Linked DNA regions of Homo sapiens: region 1 is linked to region 2. Evidence: fine-mapped expression QTL. Tissue or cell type: tibial artery. Region 2 holds a variant in brackets; the other region holds the start of a gene. All regions are shown on one strand. Distances are between the middles of the regions.

Region 1 (5,000 bases), 23 kb before region 2:
CATGAAAAAAATCCTGGTTCTGCTAAGGTGAGGGAAGGGGAATAGCTGTTGGGTAGATCACCAATAATGTCCACCAGACACTTACGTAGTACCAGCAATTGATTTATCACAATGTAACACACAAGTGATGATACTCAAATTAAACTATACTAGTGCTAAGGAACCAGTAAAGATTAGTGGGGATTATGGTAAACAAGAATAACATGATCTATTAATAAAAGAGAGCCACGCCAAGCGTGGTGGCTCATTGCCAGTAGCTGTGGCTCAGGCCTGTAATCTCAGCACTTTGGGAGGCTGAGGTGGATGGATCGTCCGAGGTCAGGAGTTTGAGACCGGCCTAGCCAACATGGCGAAACCCCATCTCTACTAAAAATACAAAAATTAGCCAGGTGTGGTGGCGTGTGCCTGTGATCCCACCCACTTGGGAGGCTGAGGCATGGGAATTGCTTGAACCTGTGAGGTGGAGTTTGCAGTGAGCCGAGATTGTGCCACTGCACTCCAGCCTGGGTGACAGAGTAAGACTCTGTCTCGAAAAAAAGAAAAAAAAAAAAAAAGAAGAAGCCACTACTTTGCTCTAAGCAATGTGACCATGCAAAAATATAACCCTTCTGTTGCAAGATCATCAACATTTTTTAGAGAAACTGATAATTTGGATTTTTATGTAAAATAGCCATATTTTAAATGTTGGCAACTAAGTTCATTTTTGTTCTTGTTTTTAACCACGCAGGACAGCCAATACTGTCTAAAATAAACAAAGCATAACTGTTGGCTAAATGCAGTCTGTGAACCTCTAGTTTTCTGGGCTAGAAAAACCATTACTTGCCATTCAGTAGTTCTATGAATGAAAGGCTTGCTAAGAGTAGAGGAACCAAAGAAGATGAGAGAATGAGTGTCATTGTCTCATACAATGCTTTTCGGCAGGTGTGTCCCCACTCACATGTTCTCAGGCTCCCACTTCACGGAATGAAATGTGAAGTCCACTTGGGGCCAGTTAATTCTTTCCAAGATAGTCAAGGTGTTCCACTGCCAGGCACCAGGAACACTTGTTTCCCTGGTGTTGACCATCTTACTTCATTTACAGGTAAGCCCTAGCAGGTACAGGGACAAAAGTCTTCACACTAACAGAAATCCAGTGTAGATTAGCTTCTTTTTTTCCCAAGATGCCTAAATTCTATTTTTTAAAAAAGATATAGCGATCATTCTTCCATTTCTAGACCCTTAGCTGACGTCATTAGGTAGTTTATCATAGTTCTGCGAGACATACAGCTTTTCATTAATAGGTTAGATTAATTACCGTCCTATCATTAAAACGCATTTAGTTTAACTGAATGGAAAATAGCAGTTTGTCATAAACTTAAAAAAAAAAATCAATGCTTAATTAGCTTAAAATAGACTAGTACTGAGATCAGAGACTGATTGGCGTTTATCTTTTCCCTGGACAATTTCTTGTTCCCAAAAAAGCACAAGGGCAGTAGTTGTCACTCCTGCTTACGCATTAGAATCTAGTGGATGGAAATGCGGGGTTTGGGGGGAGGAGATGAGGGGAACGCTTTTTTAAAAAAGCTTTTGTCCAGGCCAAGTGATTCTAATGTGTAGACAGGGCAGAATACCGCTCCCTGTGCGGGGGAAAAAATCCCCAACATCTGAAATTCCTCAAATCCCTCAGATTCTCTCCAGAACTCTTCATTTCAGCACGTAGGGGTACCAACGAACAATTTTCTGAGGTGTCTGAGGCTAGTCATGTCCCCGGAGATTGACGGGACCGTCAGCCAATCGGCCGTCTGAACGAGTGATGGCAACCCCAATGACAAGCAACAGAATGAGGAACTTTATCCCCGCAGAAAGACCAGATCGCAGTAGCAAAGGTCAACAAGTCAACAAAAGCCAAGGGCTCTCCGTCAGGCATCAGCGAGGCCCGAGTACTCTTAGAGGTCGTAGCCAGGAGAGGGTCCCGCGCTTGCCCAGCGTTGCTAGGGAGGCGGCGCTTGCTCAAGCTTCTCGTGCCCTCTCCGTACGTCACTTCCGCCCGGCGGGGTCTCATAGTCCTATGGGCTGGGTTGAAGCCACTTCCTTTTTTCTTTCCCTTTTTCCTCTCCGTGGCCCCGCCTCCCGGAAGTTCTGCCTTGTCTCCGCCGCGGGTCAGGGGTGAGAGCTGGAATCTCTGCACGGGCCTTGGTGAGTAACTGCTGCGAGTTCTGTTCCCGCGCGGCGCCAGTTCAAAGAACTTAGGTTAGATCACGCTTAGGGCCCAACAGGACTGTGCCAGGCCTCAGGAGTCTCCACCCTCTCCAGTTTTGGGGCCGTCAGTCTCCTGGGCCTGCAATTATCCACGCTGAGGCTGAGGTCTTTGGCTTTTAGCGAGTTGGATTGCAGCCTTGTTCTGCTTCTGTGTCTTCTCTCTCCAGGCGAGGTCCTACTGAGGTTGTTGCCAGCGATAGTCCTCTCCTGGAGCTTGAATTGGAAGCAGAGTAGTCTTGTTAGTCTCGGTGATGGCTGCGTTGTTTCCTGAAGTAGCCAAAGTGCTTTAGCATCCATTCCGCCTCCTTTGAGCACCCTGGGAGGTAGGCAGGGCAGACGAAAAATATATTCGTTAATATTGTGCAGTTGAGGAAACTGAAGCTCTTGGCGAATTCACTGTTTCAAAGCAACACGGCCTCTAACAGGCAGAACTGAAATTCGCACCCAGGTCTAACTAACGTAGGGTTGCATAAAACAGTGGAGAGAGCGTTTGGAAATAGGGAAAACACTGCAAACGTTAAAGAAGAGCTGGGGTTTCTGAGTGCTTACTTTGTGTTCGGCTTTGTGCCAAATTCTTTCTATAATTATATCATCCATTTTATTTTATAATAAGCATAGGAAGTATATACTGTGGTTATTTATTCCTGGGTTAGGAAACTGAGGCTTAGAGATGATAACTGACTTGTCTAGTACTAATGACTTTAGTAGGCATTTCACAGATCTCTTTCAGCTCTGTGATTCTTTCAACACTGTAGTATTAACTTCTGGCATAATCAAACTGCCCTTTTCTGATTTTGGCATTACAGGAAGAGAGATTCCAGAACTTTATTTTTGGTCTCTTCACCCTTTGCCCATTGTCTCATTTCTTATCACCATTCTTATCACCATCCTATTTAGAAATTTATAGTCATGTAAATTTAGCCTTGACTTTCTTTTTTTTTTTTTTTTGAGACGGAGTCCCGCTCTGTTGCCCAGGCTGGAGTGCTGTGGTGCGATCTCGGCTCACTGCAAGCTCCGCCTCCCGGGTTCAAGTGATTCTCCTGCCTTAGCCTCCCGAGTAGCTGGGACTACCGGCGCCCGCCACCACGCCTGGCTAATTTTTTGTATTTTTAGTAGAGACGGGGTTTCACCGTGTTAGGCAGGATGGTCTCGATCTTCTGACCTCTTGATCCGCCCGCCTCGGCCTCCCAAAGTGCTGGGATTACAGACATGAGCCACCGCGCCCGGCCCGCCTTGACTTTTACTCTACAATTTAATTTTTTTTTTTTTTCCTCAAAGAGAAATATGGAGATGGTTGTGGAATTAATGGATCCAGGTTAAAGGGTTGGCCAGAAAAGTTGCTAGTTTTTACTCTATTGTTTTACTCTATTGTTGCTTTGCTTACATATATTATGTCAGTTTCTGCCTTTTTTTCTATCAGGAAAACGACTGTCTTCTTCTGCCAAAATGTCAGGAATTGGAAATAAAAGAGCAGCTGGAGAACCTGGCACCTCCATGCCTCCTGAGAAGAAGGCAGCTGTTGAAGATTCAGGGACCACAGTGGAAACAATTAAGCTAGGAGGTGTCTCTTCAACGGTATGAGGAAACAGTGCCATGAAAGTGTGCTTGTCTTCTGTCAGTTGCAACTTGAAACTAAAAATTCATGGAAGCTTTCTGGAGTATGGGGAAGCTATTTGAAAAGAAGAGGGAAATAAAACAGGCTGAAAGTAGGTAAAATGATGTGGTAGTCAGTTCTAGAGGAGAGGTAGATTGATAGTTGTTCTTTGTTTTCAAGGTGTACTTATATTCTTTCGAGAATCTGGGAAGGTGGTGCCTGATACAACATTAACTATAGGTATTTAGCAGTGGGAAGATACACATTTATTTTTCATTCACTGAAAAAGTCAGTACCAGATTCTAAGAGACAGTTTAGCAATCATTGAGAGTATGGTGAAGAGTGAGAGTCTGAGACCAGATTGCCTGGAGTTGACTCTGAGCTGTACCACTTCCTAGCTGGCTGACCTTGTGTTATCCTTCCTTTGCCTGTTTTCTTGTCTGTAAAATGTAATTAGAGTACCTGCTACATTAGATTTTTATGCATATAAAATAAGAGTCCCTGTTAAGGGCTAACACTTTGCATTTAATATAGTAAATAGTCAATAAATGGGAGGCATTCATAGCTAATATTGGGCTAGATAATATAATGGTGCATAACATAGATATTATCCTTGCTCTTATGGAGCTGACAAAATGAGTATTATATACCAAAATCTCATAGTAATGTTATATATCTGTTAGACATCAGAAGTTTACAGGTTTTGATCTACGTCAAGATTTTGCTTTTTTGAAAATCAGACATGGGGATGTGATATTAAAATGTTTTACATTTTGTAAAATGCTTTACATTTGTATGGCTTGCAAAACCACATCTATTGCTTATTTGATTTTGAGGCTGAGGTTTATTTTAGAGAGGCTGATTTTTTTTTTTGAGTCAGAATAATAGGAACATTCATAGTGAGTTGTTGATGAAGTGTCATTTCTGAGGCTGCCTGAGGTTCTGGTACTTAATATTGCTGGCAGGAAGTGATTTTTGTTTTAGCACTGCCTTGCATCATGCATTCCAAAGGCATTTATTCACTCAATATATAAATATTTGTTGAGTATTTGTTATTTGCCAGACACTATCCTTTACACTGAAGACAGCCCCTAGACTTTAGTTTGTAGGGTAGCACTGACAAGGGAATAGACTGTTTAGAGTGGGGTATGTGCTGTTGACAGGGATA
Region 2 (7,985 bases):
TTGACACACTAAGATAGACCTTTAACTTGTTGAATTTTTCTGTGTCATAACCTTATGCATTGGCCCTTCTCCTGTATAACCAATAACTTCTCTGGCAGAACGGCTTACTTCTTGCTCCTTACTTTCTATGGTTGATCCTTTGTTGATGTTTGGACTTGAGAGACCACTGTGCTCAAAATGCTTGAACTCTTTTGGTATATAAAAGTATAGTTAAGAGGTTTAGTAATTTAATAAGAGGTGAAGTTTTAGTCTTTGGCTGATGGTTAATCACTCAGCTGTCAAATCTAGGATTAACAGTATATCTCAGACTTTCAAATTTTTCCCTTTTATTTCTCCCTCTTGAACTCTTTAAGGCAATTTTTTTTTTTTCTGGTGTGGTATCAGAATCATCTGAGTGACTTGTTTAAATCACTTGTTTAAATTTTTGAACTCCATCCCCAGACCTACTGAATCTCAGTTACCCAGGGTTGGGGGCCACAGAAATTTGCCTATATAACAAGTACACAAATGTCTGTTTTATAACTTTGTTAGAGGACTTTGAAGGGAGAAATGATTCATTTTTATACAGCTTACTTTTCTGTACTTTCTAAGCATATCCAAAAGTCTTTTGATAGTCTGTGCAAAATTTTATCTTTTAGGTGTGATATGAAATGTAAAATGAAACTGTTTTAAAATATTCTGCTCAATCAAAATTCCCTTGCTCTGATGACCTTTATTTTCTTATTACATTGTTCCCCTCCCTCTACTACGCCTGTCATAGGAAGGCACAGGAGAGCCAAAAGGAGATGAAACTATTGCTGGATATGTACCGTTCTGCCCCAAAGGAACAGAGAGACAAAGTTCAGCTGATGGCAGCTGAGAAGAAGTCTAAGGCAGAGGTATTCTAGTCTGCTATTACCTGTCCTTCTGGTTAAAATCTTCATTTGTGGGATTTTCCTTTATACTTGCCAACGATATAATTTCTTTCTTTATCTTTAAAATAAGTGTTTAAGTGCAACATTTTCTGCCTTTTCAAAGACCATCTGAAGTAGAGATTTTAAAACTCTCCATAGGATGGTAAAATATATCTGAATTACTGGGGTTATGAGTAGGCTTTCCAAAGTATGTATTCCTTGTTTTTCCTATGTAATTCATTGCTACAGGGATAATCTTTTTCATTACTTTTGGGAGGAATGTCTTATGCTCTTAAAATTTTGAGGCCTAAAAAAAAGGATGGGAACCACTATTCTAAAGAAAGTTACCTGTGCACTTCTCAAAAGTGTTGCTTATAGAAGCATGTCATAGTAGAATGGAGTGATGTTAAAACAGATGGTGTTATGTAATGTTTTAGTATATTATGTACCTTGTTCTATAATTCTGTAAAGACTCTTTTGGTATTATGAACCTTCTATCTTTGCACAGTATTAATTGATTTTTGAAAATGTGTTATAACTTTTTATTTTTGTGCAATTCCTTTCCTCTTATAGTTGGAAGATCTAAGGCAAAGACTCAAGGATCTGGAAGATAAAGAGAAGAAAGAGAACAAGAAAATGGCTGATGAGGATGCCTTGAGGAAGATCCGGGCAGTGGAGGAGCAGATAGAATACCTACAGAAGAAGCTAGCCATGGCCAAGCAGGTGGACTCACTTTCTTTATTTAATTGACTTTTTGAGTAAATGTTACTTGACAATAAGTTATTGCCAGTGAAATTTGCTTTTTTATTTTGGTCTTTTTTTGATTGTTAATGTGTATTTTTCCTTTTTGTGTGTGTGTTTTAATTCTTACCTTCAAGTCTTTTATCTTTCTGTTATTTTGTTTTGTGTATTTGTGAGGCAAGAAATTTACTTTTATTTAAATGGACATTTATTGAAGATCTAGTCTTTCTCTGCTGTTGTTCAGACAGTTATTGAAGATCTAGTCTTTCTTTGCTGACCTGGAATTAAGGGTTATAGTGAATATAAAATGAAAAATAAGACATAAGATTTTATATACATTATGATTACAAATATATGAAACTAAGAAAACTATGCTTATAAATATATATCATTATATATTTCTATGTAGTACATATACTACACAGAAAAACTATGCTTATAAATATGTGATTTATATATAATAAGGATATAATCTATTAACCAATATAATAACATTGATTAAGCAGTATGTTAACTATGGCTATTTTGGGGTCATAGAACTATAGAGATTGTTCTCCTCCTTATAATGAATATGTATGTATTTTTAAATGCCAGGGAATTTTTATTAAAATTCAATAATAAAGATACTGAAAATGCTTGAAAAAACCATATATGTATTCTCTGTTAGTACACCTTCATTGTTTCTAAGAAATAGCAAAATAACAGTGAGATGGAGTAGGTTTAATGGTAAGTTGATCATGAAGTGCCTTGAAAAGAAGAACTTCATTAGATCCTATACACATTCCTTTTGTTAACAAGTGTAATTTTGGGCTGGGCGCGGTGGCTCATGCCTGTAATCCCAGCACTTTGGGAGGCCGAGGTGGATGGATCACCTGAAGTCGGGAGTTCAAGACCAGCCTGACCAACATGGAGAAACCCCATCACTATTAAAAAAAAAAAAAAACAAAATTAGCTGGGCTTGGTGGCGCATGCCTGTAATCCCAGCTACTTGGGAGGCTGAGGCAGGAGAATTGCTGGAACCCAGGAGTGGAGGTTGCAGTGAGCCGAGATGGCGCCATTGCACTCCAGCCTGGGCAACAAGAGCAAAACTCCATCTCAAAAAAAAAAAAAGTGTAATTTTGACTTTTCTTAAATCTGGTAAATGCCACTTTTTTTTTTCTTCCCTCTCTCTTAAGGTAATTATCAGGAAATTATACTATTATAGGTTCTAGAACAAGTAAAAAGAAAGACACTATGTTCTTGTATACGATGACTATCTTAAAAATGTTCAGTCTTTCTAAGTTTATGTATTAATATAATGTGATCTCATAAAAGTGCTTTTTTTAAGTTTTGCTTTTGTTTATTTTGGTACTAGAAGAACTGGTTTTAAAGTACATGTGGAGAAGTAAACAAGAGTAACAAGAGAAATTGAAAAAGAACAGCACTGGGGTCTCTTCCATATATTAAAACATAAAGTTTCTGTAGATGAAATAGCTTGGGACTACTAGACAGGCTATTAGAACTGAATAGAAACTTGAGAAGTAGTTGAAAGTACACATGATACTTATTATGTGCTAAATACATAGTTTTAAATCAGTGGGGAAAAGAAAAACTGTGACATGTGATGGGACAAAATTAAAAAAAATAATGTTAGAGAAAAGTTAGATACATACTTGAATACACTAGGATGATTTCCAAATGGATCATAGATATGATATTTTAAAAAATGCATCCATCAAAAAGCTAGAAGAAAACCATTAAATTCCTTTATAATTTGGAGTGGAGACCTTTCTATGAATAAAAGGCTAGAAAACATGAACAAAAAATTGATAATTTTGAGTTATTTTTTAAAATGATGCAAAACTTCTACACTGCAAAAAACACTGTTAGCAAAGCCAAAAGATTAAATGACAAAAAGTAAAAAATATTTTTAACT[T/C]TTATTACAAAGAAGGCTTATCTGATACAAAAAAAACTCTCCAAAATAGGGAAAAAAACTCAAGAATCCAGTGGAAGAATAGGCAAAAGAAATGAGTTGGTTATGGAAAGAATACAAGTGGTCTTAACCATATGAAAAGATGCTCAGTCTCACTTAAAATGAGATAGATATAAAGTAAAGCTATTATTAGATACCAGTCTTCACCTATCAGATTGTTACAAGGCTTTAGATGTTTGCAACTGCTGGAAATCCTGTAGATCCAGTATTTTAATTGTGGAAAAGCATGAGAAAATGTGAGAGGTTATGATGGAAGTACTCTTAACCAATTGCTGCTTGATCCGTTTGTCTAGATTAAGGTAAATACAATTATTGTCTAATTTAACTGACGTTGAGTACAGATCAACTAATAAGTATCAGACCAACAATTGGTGCCAGTGACTTCAGATAATAGAGCTTCTGTATGCCTAGTGACAAAACACAACTTCTTAAAACTCTGTCACTAAATTAATTTATATCTAAATGAACAGTGGGAAAATTTAGTTTCCTGTGCTCTTCCATTGAAGTTGGAAGATTCTTCTAAAATCAAATCTCTTCCTTCATCCTTTAGGAAGAAGAAGCACTCCTCTCTGAAATGGATGTCACAGGCCAGGCCTTTGAAGACATGCAGGAGCAAAATATCCGTTTGATGCAGCAATTGCGGGAGAAGGATGATGCAAATTTCAAGCTCATGTCAGAGCGTATCAAGTCCAATCAGATCCATAAGTTGCTTAAAGAAGAGAAGGAGGAGCTGGCAGACCAGGTGTTGACTCTGAAGACTCAGGTAATTAGGATGAGTAGAGCTTTCTATTCTGTTGAAATAGGGTGCTTTCTACATGATGATATAAGTAAAAGAATGATTATTGTGGCACATTTTTGTGATTGGAAAAAAATTTGAAAACTAAATGTTCATCATTAGGGTATTGGTAAATAAATTATACATCTCTACTGTTATTCCTACAAAAGAGTACAGTGTACTTGTCAAATATGGATCTGCTAATATGGAAACATGTCTGAAATAAAATCAAGTGACGTGTTTTGTTATCCTTTTTGCGTTAAAGTATATGTTTACTTGTGTTCCTGTGCTGTATATTTTAAAAATTTCTGGAAGGCTGCATGAGAAACTGTTAGAATTGTTACTTCTGGATATTGGGATGAGTTGTGGGTGAGGTTAGGAGGTATGTGTGATTTTACTTTTTTTTTTTTTTTTTTAAATTTCCATAGGTTTTGGGGAACATGTGGTGTTTGGTTACATGAATAAGTTCTTTAGTGGTGATACCAAGATTTTGGTGCACCCATAACCCAAGCAGTGTACATTGTACCCAGTGTGTAGTCTATTGTACCCAGTGTGTAGTCTGTTGTCCCTTGCCTCCCTCCGCCAAGTCACCAAAGTTTATTGTATCATTCTTATGCCTTTGCGTCCTCACAGCTTAGCTCCTACTTATGAGTGAGGACATACAATGTTTGGTTTTCCATTCCTGAGTTACTTCACTTAGAATATTGGTCTCCAATTCCAATTCCATCCGGATTGCTGTGAATGCCATTATTTTGTTCCTTTTTATGGCTGAGTAGTATTCCATGGCGTGACTTTTCCTCTGGGTAGATACCCGGAAGTGGGATTGCGGAATCAAGTGGTAGGTCTACTTTTAGTTCATTAAGGACTCTCCATACTGTTTTCCATAGTGATTGTACTAGTTTACATTCCCACCAACAGTGTAAAAGTGTTCCCTTTTCATCACATCCATGCCAACACCTATTATTTTTTGATTTTTTGATTATGGCCATTCCTGCAAAGTGAGGTGGTGTTGCATTGAGGTTTTGATTTACATTTCCCTGATAATTAATGATGTTGAACATTTTTCTTATGTTCGTTGGCCATTTGTATATATTCTTTTGAGAATTGTATATTCATGTCCTTAGCCCACTTTTTGGTGGGATTGTTTGTTTTGTTCTTGCTGATTTGTTTGAGTTCCTTGTAGATTCTGGATATTAGTCCTTTGTTGGATGTATAGATTTTTTTCTCCCACTCTATGGGTTGTCTGTTTACCCTGATGATTATTTCTTTTGCTGTGCAGAAGCTTTTTCGTTTAATTAAGTTTCATCTATTTATCATTTCTTTTGTTGCATTTGCTTTTGGGTTCTTGGTCATGAAGTCTTTGCCTAAGCCATTGTCTAGAAGGATTTTTCCAATATTGCTTTCTAGAATTTTTATGGTTTCAGGTCTTAGATTTAAGTCTTTGATCCATCTTGAGTTGATTTTTGTATAGGGTGAGAGATGAGGATCTAGTTCCATTCTTCTACATGTGGCTTGCCAATTATCCTACCACCATTTGTTGAATAGGGTGTCCCTTCCCACTTTATGTTTTTGTTTGGTTTGTCAAAGATCAGTTGACTACGTATTTGGCTTTATTTCTGGGTTCTCTATTCTGTTACATTGGTTTACATGCCTATTTTTATACCAGTACCATGCTGTTTTTGTGACTATGGCTTTATAGTATAGGTTGAAGTCAGGTAATGTGATGCCTCCAGATTTGTTCATTTTGCTTAGTCTTGCTTTGGCTATGTATGCTCTTTTTTGGTTCCATATGCGTTTTAGGATTGTTTGTTCTAGTTCCGTGAAGAATGATGTTGGTATTTTGATGGGAATTGCATTTCATTTGTAGATTGCTTTTGGCAGTATGGTCATTTTCACAATATTGATTCTACCCATCCACGAGCATGGGATGTGTTTCCATTTGTTTGTGTCATCTGTGATTTCTTTCAGCAGTGTTTTGTAATTTTTCTTGTCGAGGTCTTTCACGTTCTTGGTTAAGTATATTCCTAAGTATTTTATTTTATTTTTTTTGCAGCTGTTGTCAAAGGGTTTGAGTTCTTGATATGATTCTCAGTTTGGTTGCTGTTGGTGTATAGCAGAGCTCTGATTTGTGTACATTAATTTTGTATAGTGAAGCTTTGCTGAATTCATTTACCAGTTCTAGCACCTTTCTGGATGAGTCTTTAGGGTTTTCTAGGTATATGATAATGTAATCAGCAAACAGTGACAGTTTGACTTCCTCATTACCAATTTGGATGCCTTTTATTTCTTTCTCTTGTCTGATTGCTCTGGCTAGGACTTCCAGTGCCATGTTGAATGGAAGTGGTGAGAGTGGCATCTGTGTCTTGTTCCAGTTCTCAGGGGGAATGCTTTCAACTTTTCCTTGTTCAGTATAATGTTGGCTGTGGGATTGTCATAGATGGCTTTTATTACCTTAAGGTATGTCCCTTCTATGCTGATTTTGCTAGAGTTTTAATCATAAAAGGATGCTGGATTTTGTCAAATGCTTTTTCTGCATCTATTGAGATGATCATGTGATTTTTTAAAAATTCTGTTTATATGGTGTATCAGATTTATTGACTTGTGGATGTCAAACCATCCCTGTATCCCTGGTGTGAGACCCACTTGATCATGGTGGACTATCTTTTTGATATGCTTTTTGAAGGCAGTGTGAGAAACTGTTAGAATGGTTACCTCTACATATTGGGATGAGTTGTGGGTGAGGTTAGGAGGTGGGTGTTTGTGATTTTACTTTTTACACTTTAATATTGTTTGATTCTACTTTGTGCATTAATTTCAAAAAAGACTCTTTTAGAATGTCTAGCCATTCTGAAGGAAATACTCTTGGACTTTTGTTTGAGTTCTAATTTATATGTTATAGTATGAATTGCCAGGTTTTAAGCATTAGCATGCATTCTCTATTTTTGGCAATTTGGAAAAGAATCTTTTCAGTCATTTTTCAGACTCTTACTGAATCTTCCACAATATTTTATATTAAAAGTAAAGCTTTCAGTTATCATAGTCTTGATGTATTTTGAAGGGTTCATGGGCAAAATCAGTAATAGTTTGAGATTTCTAACATACTGTATTTTGTGGGCTTATAGATTAACAGAATAGTTTTTTTTCTTTTTTTAATCTTTTCATTTGTGTTAAAATCTGATTTTCTGTTCAAAGGTTGATGCCCAGCTACAGGTAGTAAGGAAACTGGAAGAGAAGGAGCATCTGTTACAGAGCAACATTGGCACAGGGGAGAAAGAGCTGGGTCTTAGGACCCAAGCCTTAGAGATGAATAAACGCAAGGTATGATTGATTAATCTAATGATGGTTAGTCTCAGTGGAACAAATAAGTATAACACTGTTGAGATTGTAAGTTCGCTTTATTCCTTCAACTTGGGCTAACATTTTGCCTCACTGGCAATAATAGGTGATACAATGGTGTCACTTATTTGTACATCCTACATAGGCAATGGAGGCAGCCCAGCTTGCAGATGACCTCAAAGCACAACTGGAGTTGGCTCAGAAGAAGCTACATGATTTTCAGGATGAGATCGTGGAGAACAGTGTTACCAAAGAAAAGGACATGTTC

What was found. PIP is the estimated chance that this variant, and not a neighbour inherited with it, causes the effect.
Region 1: RNF20 starts here. The variant in region 2 is fine-mapped to the expression of RNF20 in tibial artery (GTEx, PIP 0.94).

The regions. Positions count from the first base shown.
Region 1 is chr9:101,531,740-101,536,739 of GRCh38, forward strand. RNF20 (ring finger protein 20) reads left to right here and starts at 2,114. Exons shown (of 20, transcript NM_019592.7): 1 at 2,114-2,175; 2 at 3,659-3,813. The coding sequence starts at 3,685. It also overlaps a transcript of PGAP4 not described here. RefSeq lists an enhancer at 1,856-1,985.
Region 2 is chr9:101,553,228-101,561,212 of GRCh38, forward strand. RNF20 (ring finger protein 20) reads left to right here. Exons shown (of 20, transcript NM_019592.7): 14 at 761-878; 15 at 1,467-1,616; 16 at 4,157-4,369; 17 at 7,574-7,699; 18 at 7,863-7,985. Among named protein-coding and RNA genes, the nearest start is that of RNF20, 23 kb to the left of the region's middle. RefSeq lists a silencer at 980-1,197. The variant T/C (reference allele first, on the strand shown) is at 3,550.